Linked DNA regions of Homo sapiens. The protein of the gene in region 1 purifies or fractionates together with the protein of each later gene. This does not show direct contact. Each region holds a gene or a part of one and is shown in the gene's direction. Other genes may lie near its edges. The genes, in order: TCTN1, PCSK9 and SMOC1.

Region 1 (3,725 bases):
TTACATTTCAATTTGAGTTGTAGACAGTGGTCACATTTTTTGTATCAGTGAATTAGTATAGCCTAGGGTGAAAAGTGCATTTTAATTTCACAGCTTTTGTTGTGGACATAGTATTTGTAACAAAAAATTAGATAAGAAATCTGTACTTTTCTGATATGTAAATCTACCAGGAATTCTCACAGTTCGCATTGTATAGAACAATGAAAAATGACATTTCCAGCTGATTATAAGGTAAATAAATAATCTGTTCTGAATGATCTCTTATAATTGAGGTTTCAAGGCTTCTTTTTTTTTTTTTTTTTTATGAGATGGAGTCTCGCTCTGTTGCCCAGGCTGGAGTGCAGTGGTGTGATAGTGGCTCACTGCAACCACCGCCTCCTGGCTTCAAGCAATTCTCCTGTCTCAGCCTCCTGAGTAGCTGGGACTACAGGTGCACGCCACGATGCCTGGCGTATTTTTAGTAGAGGTGGGGTTTCACCATATTGGTCAGGCTGCTCTCGAACTCCTGACCTCAGGTGATCCGCCCTCCTTGGCCTCCCAAAGTGCCGGGATTTCAGGTGTAAGCCAACGCGCCCAGCTTCAAGGCTTTTTGAAAAACTAGGAGCACTTAGAAGAGGCTCATTAATTCAGGATGGGACCAACTTAGTATTCAGAGATAGCTAATTTAAATTTAGCCTTATAGCAAGTTTTAGCAATTGATACTTGATAGGTGAACCCTTTTAAGAAGTACAATGGGTTTTTCCTGTGAGAAACTATTTTATTGACCAATGGGATTTTGAGCCTATTTCTAGTATTGTAAAAATGCTCAGAGAACAGGGCAATGTAGTCAGATTAATTTTCTGGCTACCTGGCCTGTAGCATGTTTCAGTATTTGTTGAAAGTCATTCTGTTTTCCTCCCTTTAGTAAATACAGGAGCCTGAAAGTGACATTTTTGCTCCAACTTGGGGCTATTTTTTTTTTTTTTGAGACAGAGTCTTGCTCTGTTGCCCAGGCTGGAGTGCAGTGCCTCCATCTCGGCTCACTGCAACCTCTGCCTGCTGGCTTCAAGCAATTTTCCTGCCTCAGCCTCCCAACGAGCTGGGACTACAGGCGTGTGCCACCATGCCCAGCTAATTTTTTGTATTTTTAGTAGAGACAGGGTTTCACCGTGTTAGCCAGGCTGGTCTTGAACTTCTGACCTCGTGATCCGCCCACCTCGGCCTCCCAAAGTGCTGGGATTACAGGCGTGAGCCACTGCGCCTAACCTGGAAGATCTCTTTTCTCCTTAACCATTAGTACCTAGTAGAGCTCCTGCCACATAGTGGGCCCTCGTTAAGAATGAGTTGAATTGGCTGGGCATGGTGTCTCACGCCTGTAATCCCAGCACTTTGGGAGGCTGAGGCATGTAGATCACTTGAGGTCAGGAGTTTGAGACCAGCCTGGCCAAGATAGTGAAACCCCGTGTCTACTAAAAATACAAAAATCAGCTGGGCGTGGTGGTGGGTGCCTGTAATCCCAGCTACTCAGGGGGCTGAGGTGGGAGAATCGCTTGAACCTGGGAGGCAGAGGTTGCAGGAGCCAAGATCGCACCATTGCACTCTAGCCCGGGCAACAAGAGCGAAACTCCATAAAAAAAAATAATAATAATAATAATGAGTTGAATGGATGAATGAATTTCTCCCTTCCACCTCTAACTGATTTCCTAGTGTCCCTTGTTGACTTCCTCTACCATTAGTCTTTTAGGCCGACACCAGGCCAAAAACCTGGAGGCTCCCCTGACCCTTGCCTCTTCCTTTCCTTTTCCTGTCTCAGCAGTCTTTCCTTTCTCCCAACCTTTCTTGAGTACCTCCTGAATGCCAGCACCAGGGACATAAAGATGAGTTAGGCACTCTCCTGCCTTCAAAGAGCTTACCGTCGAGTAAGGGAGACAGAGGAGTGGATGGCAGTTTCTACATCAAGCACGATGAGAAGGCAGAGGAATGGCATCTAACTCAGCCCCACTAAGGAATGCTCCCCAGAAAACAGGAGCTGAGCTGGGTCCTGAAGGACACGTGGAAGATGGTCAGCATGGACTGAGGGGAAGGGCATTCCAGGCAGAGGGAACTGCGTGGACAGAGATGGGGGGATGTGGGATGGCCTGCTTAACTGCAGGTAACTCAGTGTGGCCAGAAGAGGGGTGGGGTGAGAGGAGTGTAGGAAAGAGATCAGGGGTCAGGTCCCCAGGGGCCTTGTGTATATGCTAAGGGGTTTGGACTCTGTCCTGAAGTCCACAGGGCCTGGGTTGTAAGAGGATCAGATTCCCATCTTATGTAATTCTGCAGCATCATATGCAGTGGATCACAAGGCCAAGCCTGGTGGCAGAGAACCAAGTAAAAAGCTATTGCAGATGCGGATTAACGGTTTCCCTCCCCATCCTCCCCAAAAGCTGTGACAGTGGGGCTAGGGAGAAGTATCTAGATCTGATGATGATACTGAAATACTGCACAGGATTGGGGAGGTGGCTGACTGGAGGGGAGTAAGGAATCCCATTCTGTGGAGCCTTCCATCACTCTAGCCCTCGTGGTCGTCCATCCCTGCTCCTGCTTTATGAGCTCACACCTCATCCTGTCAAGCACTCACTAAAAGACCTTCAGAAGTTCTCATTATCTATAGGCTTCTTAGCCTGGATTCAGATTCATTCCCACCTTCTTTCAGAGCCTATCACCTGCTACCAGCCATCTCAAATCCACTCCAGCCCAACCTTGGTACTCAGAGTTTCCCAAAGACCATGAGTCGTTACCCAGCCTTGGCCATTGCCGTTCTTGCACTTGGATTTGCTTCCCATTCCTACTGTCTGTCTGATTTCTACTTATCCTTTAAGGCCCAGTAAAAACGGAATGATAATATCCAGTCTTGGCAAGGGTACAGGGAAATAGGCACTCTTACTACAGTGTTGGTGAGAATGTATATTGTGCCCTTCTAGAGGGCAATCTGGGAGTGTGTCTCAGAAGCTTTAAATAATGTTACCTGCCTTTTGGTTTAGCAGTTCCAGTTCAGGAAACATATCCTAAGGAAACAACTGGAGACAGTCATAAAGATGTATGTATAAGGTTGTCATTATAGCATTACATATAATTGGGGAAAATTAGAAACCTAAACCTAAACCAACGATCATAGCTCGCTGTAACCTTGCTCCTGGGCTCAAGCAGTCCTCCTACCTCAGCCTCCCAAGTAGTTAGAACTATAAGCATCTGCCAGCATGCCGGGCTAATTTTTTCTTTGTTTTCTGTAGAGATCGGGGTCTGTGTTGCCCAGGCTGGTCTTGAACTCCTGGCCTCAAGTGATCCTCCCCAGCCTCCCAAAATGCTGGGATTACAGGCATGAGCCACGGTGCTTGGGCTGTACCATATCCATATCTATATTGGTTAAACAAATTGGGGTATTAATAGGCTGGTATACGATGATGAAGCCACTTATAATATTGTAAGTGCATATTAGGCATTATATATTAAGTGAGAAAAGCCTTAAAACAGTATGTAGAATATGGTCCCATTTTTATTATGACTATCTCTATACTATTATCTGTCTGTCCAGCTATCTGTCTATTTTTTTTTTTTTTTAGAGACAAAATCTCACTTTGTGGCCCAGGCTGGTCTTGAAATCCTGGCTTCAAGTGATCCTCCTGCCATGGCCTCCCAAAGTACTGGCATTGTAGGCGTGAGCCACTGTGCCCAGCCTCTATGTTTTTTTGAGATAGGTCTTGCTC
Region 2 (3,500 bases), on another chromosome or scaffold:
AGGGAACTAGCAGCCCCTGCCTCACCCGGGGGTTTGGAAGATAGAGGGAGGCCTAGGAAGGGCCCTGTGTCTCATCCGAGCTGGGCCCCTTTCCAGCCTCTCACTGGAAGGAAGCCCAAGGATGTTCCTGTGGGGGCTTTTACCAGGCCCACCTGCCCTCTGCTGGCCATGCTTGCAGCCTCCTGACCCTGTCCCAGCAGGACAGTGGGCTGGTGTGAGCGGGCAGGAACCGCCTGCACTTAGAAGGTGTGGGGCTGCCTCCCCGAGCTTCCATCTGCCGCTGGGGCCACACCCCAGGCCCAGGGATGGGACCCCACAGTGGTCACATCATCTTGCAGCAGAACCCAGGTACAGCTCCTGGAGCAGATGGTGGTCCCAAGCACGGGTGGGACCAGAAAGGACTCTCACCTGGGCTAACTCAGCTGCAGCCTCAGTTCCCTCCTCACACACGACGAGGAACATGGACTGGAAGCCTGCCCAGCAGGCCTTCTGCTCGATGTGCGTTGTGTGGCTTACGTCCAGGGAGGGAAGCAGCCTCTGTGCTGTCTTCTAGATAAGCCTGTATTCCCCGGGCTGTCTGCCAATGTATCCAGTTGTCCCGTCAGCCTGGAAGCTCTGAGGGAAAACCTTGGGCTGCTTCCTGAGCACCTGTATCCCCTGCAGCCAGCCCGGGGCCTCTGCTAGGAGCAGACTGAGCATGGCTTATGGGCCTGGCACCATCTGGCCTCTGCCCACCTTGCTGGCCTTGTCTTGTGTCTGCCCCTTCGACATTCCATAGCCCAGCTCAATATCTAGTGGTTCCTCTAGGGTGGCGAGCACTGTTTGGTCTCCAGATGTCTTCAGGTCGGAGCTCACAGCGCTCTCAGCCACCCCTTCCCAGTGTAGCACCGGGCACATGGTAGATGCCTATTGATGAGTGAAAGCTCCTAACACACTCAGAGAGCAAGGACTCCGCCTCATCCCACAGCCTGGGAGGAGAGGCAGACTGCCAAGGACCTGCTCAGCATGCTACAGAAGAAACCAAAGTGCCCACGGGACTGATCAGTGGAGCTTCCTGCCGAGACTGGAGGCCTTAGGGCAGGGTAGACAGTGTGTGTGCAGGCTGGGGACTCACAGTTCGGACTGTGCCCAGACCTACTAGCATAGTGGGTGGGTGGGAGGATGCGGGACTGGGGGCCGACCTTGCCTGAAATTCATGTGGGATCTCAGAGCAGCCACTGAATTGCTCTGTAGGGGGCTAAATAGTGGCCCCCACAGATACACACACCCAGACAGAGCCTGTGAGCCAGACCTTATTTGGAGAAAAGGTCTTTGTAGATGTAATTAAGCATCTCAAGATGGCATCATCTGGATTATGCGGTGGGCTGTAAGTCCTGTGATGTGTCTTTATGAGAGAAAGGCAGAGGGAGATTTGACACACACAGGAGGGGCCACGTGGAGACAGAGGTGGAGATTGGAGAAATGTGGCCACAAGCCAGGGAACACCAGCAGCCACCAGAAGCCGGAAGACGTGAGGCAGGGTTCTTCCCAGAGCCTTCGCTGCTGAGTCTGGGAATTTGTGACCGAAGCCATAAGAAGTGGGTACACGCCCTGAGCCTCCCACACTTGCTCACCTGTCCTGAGATGAGAATCTCTACTCTGCAGCATATTTGGAGGATCACTGCGGGGGCCACAGAGGTGCTGTTCAGATGGCACTTCAGAAGACTCAGGAGACCCTGGGGCAGGAGCAGTTTGACTGACAGCCCAGAGGGCTGCCCTCTGATTCCACCTGAGGCCCTGCTTTTCCTGGCTGCAGGGGTTCCAGGGCCAGGCCATTTCCGCTGGCGCAGGACTCTGCTAGCAGCAACCTGCCTGAAGTCTTCCTTTGGCCTGGCTGAGAGTTTCTGAGACCTGCGCTGGAGCGGAGGTGCTTCCTTCCTTGCTTCCTTTCTTCCTCTCTCCCTTCTCCATCCAGCAGGCTGGACCTGCCTGGCATCTGTGAGCTCTCCCTACTTTCTCCTATACCCTAACCTTTGTCCTGCATGGGCGACTCCCCCAGTGAGTCTCTTGCAGCTTTTACCCCAGTGCCTGCTTCTTGGAGAATCCAAACTGATCCAGTTAGGGATGATAAAGTGTAGGGTAGGCGCTCGGTGACTGTTTTCTCTGAGGTTGTGACTCGTGTGAGGCAGAAGCAGTCCCCGTGAGCCCTCCTGGTATCTTGTGGAGTGGAGAACGCTTGGACCTGGAGCCAGGAGGCCCAGACATACATCCTGTCCGAGCTGCAGCTTCCTGTCTCTAAAATGAGCCGGCCAGCGCAGGTGGCCAGACATCACTGTTATTCTCCTTTGAGTCTTTAAATCTTGTTGTCTTTCTTGCAGACTCGGTGAGCTGTGAAAGGCTATAATAGGGGCTTTATTTTACACTTTGATACTATTTTTTGAACATTCATATTATTGTTAGATATTGATATTCATATGAAGGAGCAGGATGACTTGGGTCCTTCTTGGCAGTAGCATTGCCAGCTGATGGCCTTGGACAGTTACCTGCCCTCTCTAGGCCTCCCTTTCCTTGTCTATGAAATACATTATAGAATAGGATGTAGTGTGTGAGGATTTTTTGGAGGTTAAACGAGTGAATATATTTAAGGCGCTTTCACCAGTGCCTGGGATGTGCTCTGTAGTTTCTGTGTGTTAACTATAAGGTTGACTTTATGCTCATTCCCTCCTCTCCCACAAATGTCGCCTTGGAAAGACGGAGGCAGCCTGGTGGAGGTGTATCTCCTAGACACCAGCATACAGAGTGACCACCGGGAAATCGAGGGCAGGGTCATGGTCACCGACTTCGAGAATGTGCCCGAGGAGGACGGGACCCGCTTCCACAGACAGGTAAGCACGGCCGTCTGATGGGAGGGCTGCCTCTGCCCATATCCCCATCCTGGAGGTGGGTGGGGACTGCCACCCCAGAGCGTTGCAGCTGTACTCCTGGGTTGCACCCCCCCCAGCTGTCACTGTCCCCTCCCTGCCATCAGTTGTGGGAAGGGCGTTCATCCATCCAGCCACCTGCTGATTTGTTATAGGGTGGAGGGGGGGTCTTTCTCATGTGGTCCTTGTGTTCGTCGAGCAGGCCAGCAAGTGTGACAGTCATGGCACCCACCTGGCAGGGGTGGTCAGCGGCCGGGATGCCGGCGTGGCCAAGGGTGCCAGCATGCGCAGCCTGCGCGTGCTCAACTGCCAAGGGAAGGGCACGGTTAGCGGCACCCTCATAGGTAAGTGATGGCCCCAGACGCTGGTCTCTCTCCATCTGGACCTGGCCTGGGAGGTGGCTTGGGCTGGGCCCAGGGAGAGCTAATGTCTCCTAACCAAGAATGCTGTGGCAGCCTCTGCCGCAGAGCCAGAGAACCAGAGTGCCAAGGCTGGCAGGGTTCCCAGTGGCCACGAGTGCAGATGAAGAAACCCAGGCCCCAAGAGGGTCATGCAGGTAGCCCAGGGAGTTCAGCCTTGACCCTGGGTCAATGACCTTTC
Region 3 (3,725 bases), on another chromosome or scaffold:
TGGTTGTTGAGAGCGGCGTCATCCGAGGAGCAGAAACATCTGGCTTGTTGCATTATTCCCTGTGGGCGCTCCTAAGTCTCTTCTGTTAATCTTTTGAGTGACAGAGGCTTAAGGATTGGCATCTTTTCCAGCTGGCTTTCTAGGAAACCAAGAGCATGCCCTTTCAGTTTAACTTTATCTGGCTCACTAATTGAGCTCCCCCGAGGCCTAGACCCCAGTCCTCGCCCCCTTATTTGCTTCCTGCCTTCCTTCATAAAATTCTTGACATTTGTTTGACTCTGGAAACCAGCGGCTATCGAGTATCAGATTGGAGGCTATTATGTAGGAAGCACCTGATTTTGGGGTCTCTCAACTGTGAGTGGTTGCTTGGCTAGCTGGGACGTTGGTCAGGATTCTTTTAATCACTGAGGAGGCAGCCGTTTCTTTAATCCTGCACAATTTACTGAAAATGTTTCAGGGGAGGATGGGATGGGGGAGGGGCTCTCCCTGGCTGATGGTGTCTGGCCGATGGTCAAGCCAACTGCCTGTCTTTGTTAAATTCTGTGTCTCCCTTGAAGATGGAAAGCTGGGTGAAGGCAGGAACTGTTTCTGTCTTGTCCAGGGATTTATCTCCAGAGCTCAGCAAGGGGCCAGACACCTGTCAAGATTTACTTTGTTGGTACTGATGGAATGAACAAATAAATGCAGATAATGTGTGTTTGAGAGTGATTACAGGTTCCACTTTGACTGGAGGCAGGAACTAGATTTAAGAAGTGTGAGAAATAGGAGATGATGCGAAGATCAAGAGGTCTGAGTCAGAAATGGATTTTTATTTTTTAAATTTGACAGATAGCATTGTATGTATTTATTGTGCACAATATGATGTTTTGAAGTATATATACATTATGAAATAGTTAAATCTAGCTAATTAATGATAGCATTACCTCGCATAATTATTATTTTTGTGGTGAGAGCACTTAACATCCACTCTTTGCATTTTTCAAGGATACAATAACTTGTCATTAACTATAGTCACTTTGAATAGATCTCTTGAATTTATTACTCCTCTCTAACTATAATTATGTACCCTTTGACCAACCTCTCTCCTTTCCCTCTCCCCTCTTCCTTCCTCAGCCTCTGGTAACCACTGTTCTACTTTCTACTTCTATGAGACCAATTTTTTTAGATTCCACATATGAGTGAGATTATGCAGTATCTGTCCTTCTGTGGCTGGCTTACTTTTCTTAACGTCCTCCAGGTTCATCTACATTGTTGCAAATGACAGGACTTCATTCTTTTCTGTGGCTGAATAGTATTCCTTGTGTATATATACCATATTTTCTCTATCCATTCATCCACTGATAGACAATTAGGTTGATTTCATATCCTGGCTATTGTGAACAATGCTGCAATAAACATGGGAGAACAGGTATTTCTTCAACATACTGATTTCATTTCCTTTGGATAAATGTCCAGCAGTGAGATTGCTGGATCATATGCTAGTTCTGCTTTAAATTTTTTGAGGAATGTTTTTACTGTTTCTCATGATGGCTGTACTAATTTATGTTCCCACCAACAGTATGTGAGAACTCCCTTTTCTCCATATCCTTACCAGCACTTGTTGTTTTTTGTCTTTTTGATAATAGCCATTCTAACTGGAGTGAGGTGGTATCTCATTGTGGTTTGAATGCATTTCCCTGATGATTAGTGATGTTGAGCATTTTTTTTTTTTTTTTTTTTTTTTTTTTGAGACGGAGTCTCGCTCTGTCGCCCAGGCCGGACTGCGGACTGCAGTGGCGCAATCTTGGCTCACTGCAAGCTCCGCTTCCCGGGTTCACGCCATTCTCCTGCCTCAGCCTCCCGAGTAGCTGGGACTACAGGCGCCCGCCACCGCGCCCGGCTAATTTTTTGTATTTTTAGTAGAGACGGGGTTTCACCTTGTTAGCCAGGATGGTCTCGATCTCCCGACCTCATGATCCACCCGCCTCGGCCTCCCAAAGTGTTGGGACTACAGGCGTGAGCCACCGCGCCCGGCCGAGCATTTTTAAATATACCTATTGCCCATTTCTATGTCTTCTTTTGAGAAATACCTATTCAGATCTTTTGCCCATTTTTTCATTGCATTGTTTTTTGTTTTTTTTGCTATTAAGTGATTTGAGTTCTCTGTGTACTTTGCATATTAACTCCTTATCAGATATACAGTTTGTGAATATGTTCTCCCATTCTCTAGGTTATCTCTTTACTTGGTTAATTGTTTTCCTTGGTGTGTAGAAGCTTTTTAGTTTGGTATAATTTCATTTGTCTATTTTTGCTTTTGTTGCTTGTGCTTTTGAGGTCCCCAAACCAAAGTCATGGAGCTTTCCCCCTATGTTTTCTTTTAATAGTGTCATAGTTTTGGATCTTACATTTAAGTCTTTAATTCATTTGAGTCAATTTTTGTATATGGTGAGAGATGAGGGTCTAATTTCATTCTTCTGCATGTGGATATCCAGTTTTCCTAACACCATTTATTGAAGATTTTCCTTTCCCCATTGTGTGTTCTTGGTACCTTTGTTGAAATCAGTTGTCTGTAAATGCGTGGATTTATTTTTGGGCTCTGTCTTCTGTTCCATTGGTCTATGTGTCTGTTTTTATGCCATTACCATGCTGTCTTGGTTCTATAGCTTTGTAGTTTATTTTGAAGTCATATAGTGTGATGCCTCTGGCTTTGTTCTTGTTACTTTTTACTTTGCTTTGGCTATTCAGGGTCTTTTGTGGTTCTACAAAAATTTTAGGGTTTTTTTTTCTATTTCTATGAAGAACATCTTAGTATTTTTATAGGGATTGCACTGAATCTGTAGATTGCTTTGGGAAGTATAGACATTTTCACAACATTTGCTCTTCCAATTCATGAACGTGACATCTCTTTCCATTCATTTGTGTATTCTTCAACCTGAAACTTATTTCTTAAATGTTTTAGATATTTGTTATTTCTTCTCTCACCTCTTGATCACTTGATTCATCCTTCAAAACCCAGTTCCAACATTACTCTCTAGGAACTTTTCTACAGAGCATTCTTTTTGCTTAGGAACGATTACTCTCTCCTTCGAACAACTTCTTTTTTTTTTTTTTTAAGGAAAATTTGTATTATTTTAATTATTTTTATGTACAGAAAACTCAACAGTGTACATTTAACCCAGTTTAGTGGCAAGTTCTTTAGCCTTTGCCTTTTTGCGCTTGGCGATACGAGCCACAGACTTAGGACCCAGGACATTGCCACCCCAGTGACGGCGGATCTCATCGTATCTGTCATTGTAATTGGTCCTGATAGCTTCCACCAGCTTAGCCAAAGCGCCTTTGTCTTCTGAGTTCACCTGTGTGAAGGCGACAGTGGTGCAGGTCTTCCTGTGGACTAGACGTCCCAGTCTTGCCTTCCCCTTGATAATGCAGTAAGGGACCCCCATTTTACGACATAGGGCAGGCAAGAAGACAACCAGCTCGATGGGATCCATGTCGTGTGAAATCACCACCAGCTGAGCTTTCTTGTTCTCCACCAAGGTGGTGACAGTGTTAACTCCTGCTCGAAGGACAGGTGGTCTCTTCTTCGGGACGTCCCCTTTGCCAGCAGCTTTCTTCTCGGCCCGGGCCAACAGTCTCTGCTTCTTCTCTTGCTTTGTCTCTGGCCTGTACTTGTGGGCCAGCTTAAGCAGCTGAGTAGCTGTTTGGCGGTCCAGGGCCTGGGTGAACTGGTTAATCGCAGGAGGCAC

The links.
Region 2: the proteins of TCTN1 (region 1) and PCSK9 purify together in Homo sapiens (affinity purification with mass spectrometry; one large-scale study listed by BioGRID and IntAct). This does not show direct contact.
Region 3: the proteins of TCTN1 (region 1) and SMOC1 purify together in Homo sapiens (affinity purification with mass spectrometry; one large-scale study listed by BioGRID and IntAct). This does not show direct contact.

Annotation. Positions count from the first base shown.
Region 1 is NC_000012.12:110,620,526-110,624,250, forward strand, and holds part of TCTN1 (tectonic-1 isoform 1 precursor), read left to right. Parts: intron 1-3,725. UniProt on the Homo sapiens protein: Component of the tectonic-like complex, a complex localized at the transition zone of primary cilia and acting as a barrier that prevents diffusion of transmembrane proteins between the cilia and plasma membranes.
Region 2 is NC_000001.11:55,049,548-55,053,047, forward strand, and holds part of PCSK9 (proprotein convertase subtilisin/kexin type 9 isoform 1 preproprotein), read left to right. Parts: intron 1-1,644; exon of another isoform or gene 1,645-1,906; intron 1,907-2,730; coding exon 2,731-2,864; intron 2,865-3,099; coding exon of another isoform or gene 3,100-3,102; coding exon 3,103-3,244; intron 3,245-3,500.
Region 3 is NC_000014.9:69,882,191-69,885,915, forward strand, and holds part of SMOC1 (SPARC-related modular calcium-binding protein 1 isoform 1 precursor), read left to right. Parts: intron 1-3,091; exon of another isoform or gene 3,092-3,725. UniProt on the Homo sapiens protein: Plays essential roles in both eye and limb development. Probable regulator of osteoblast differentiation.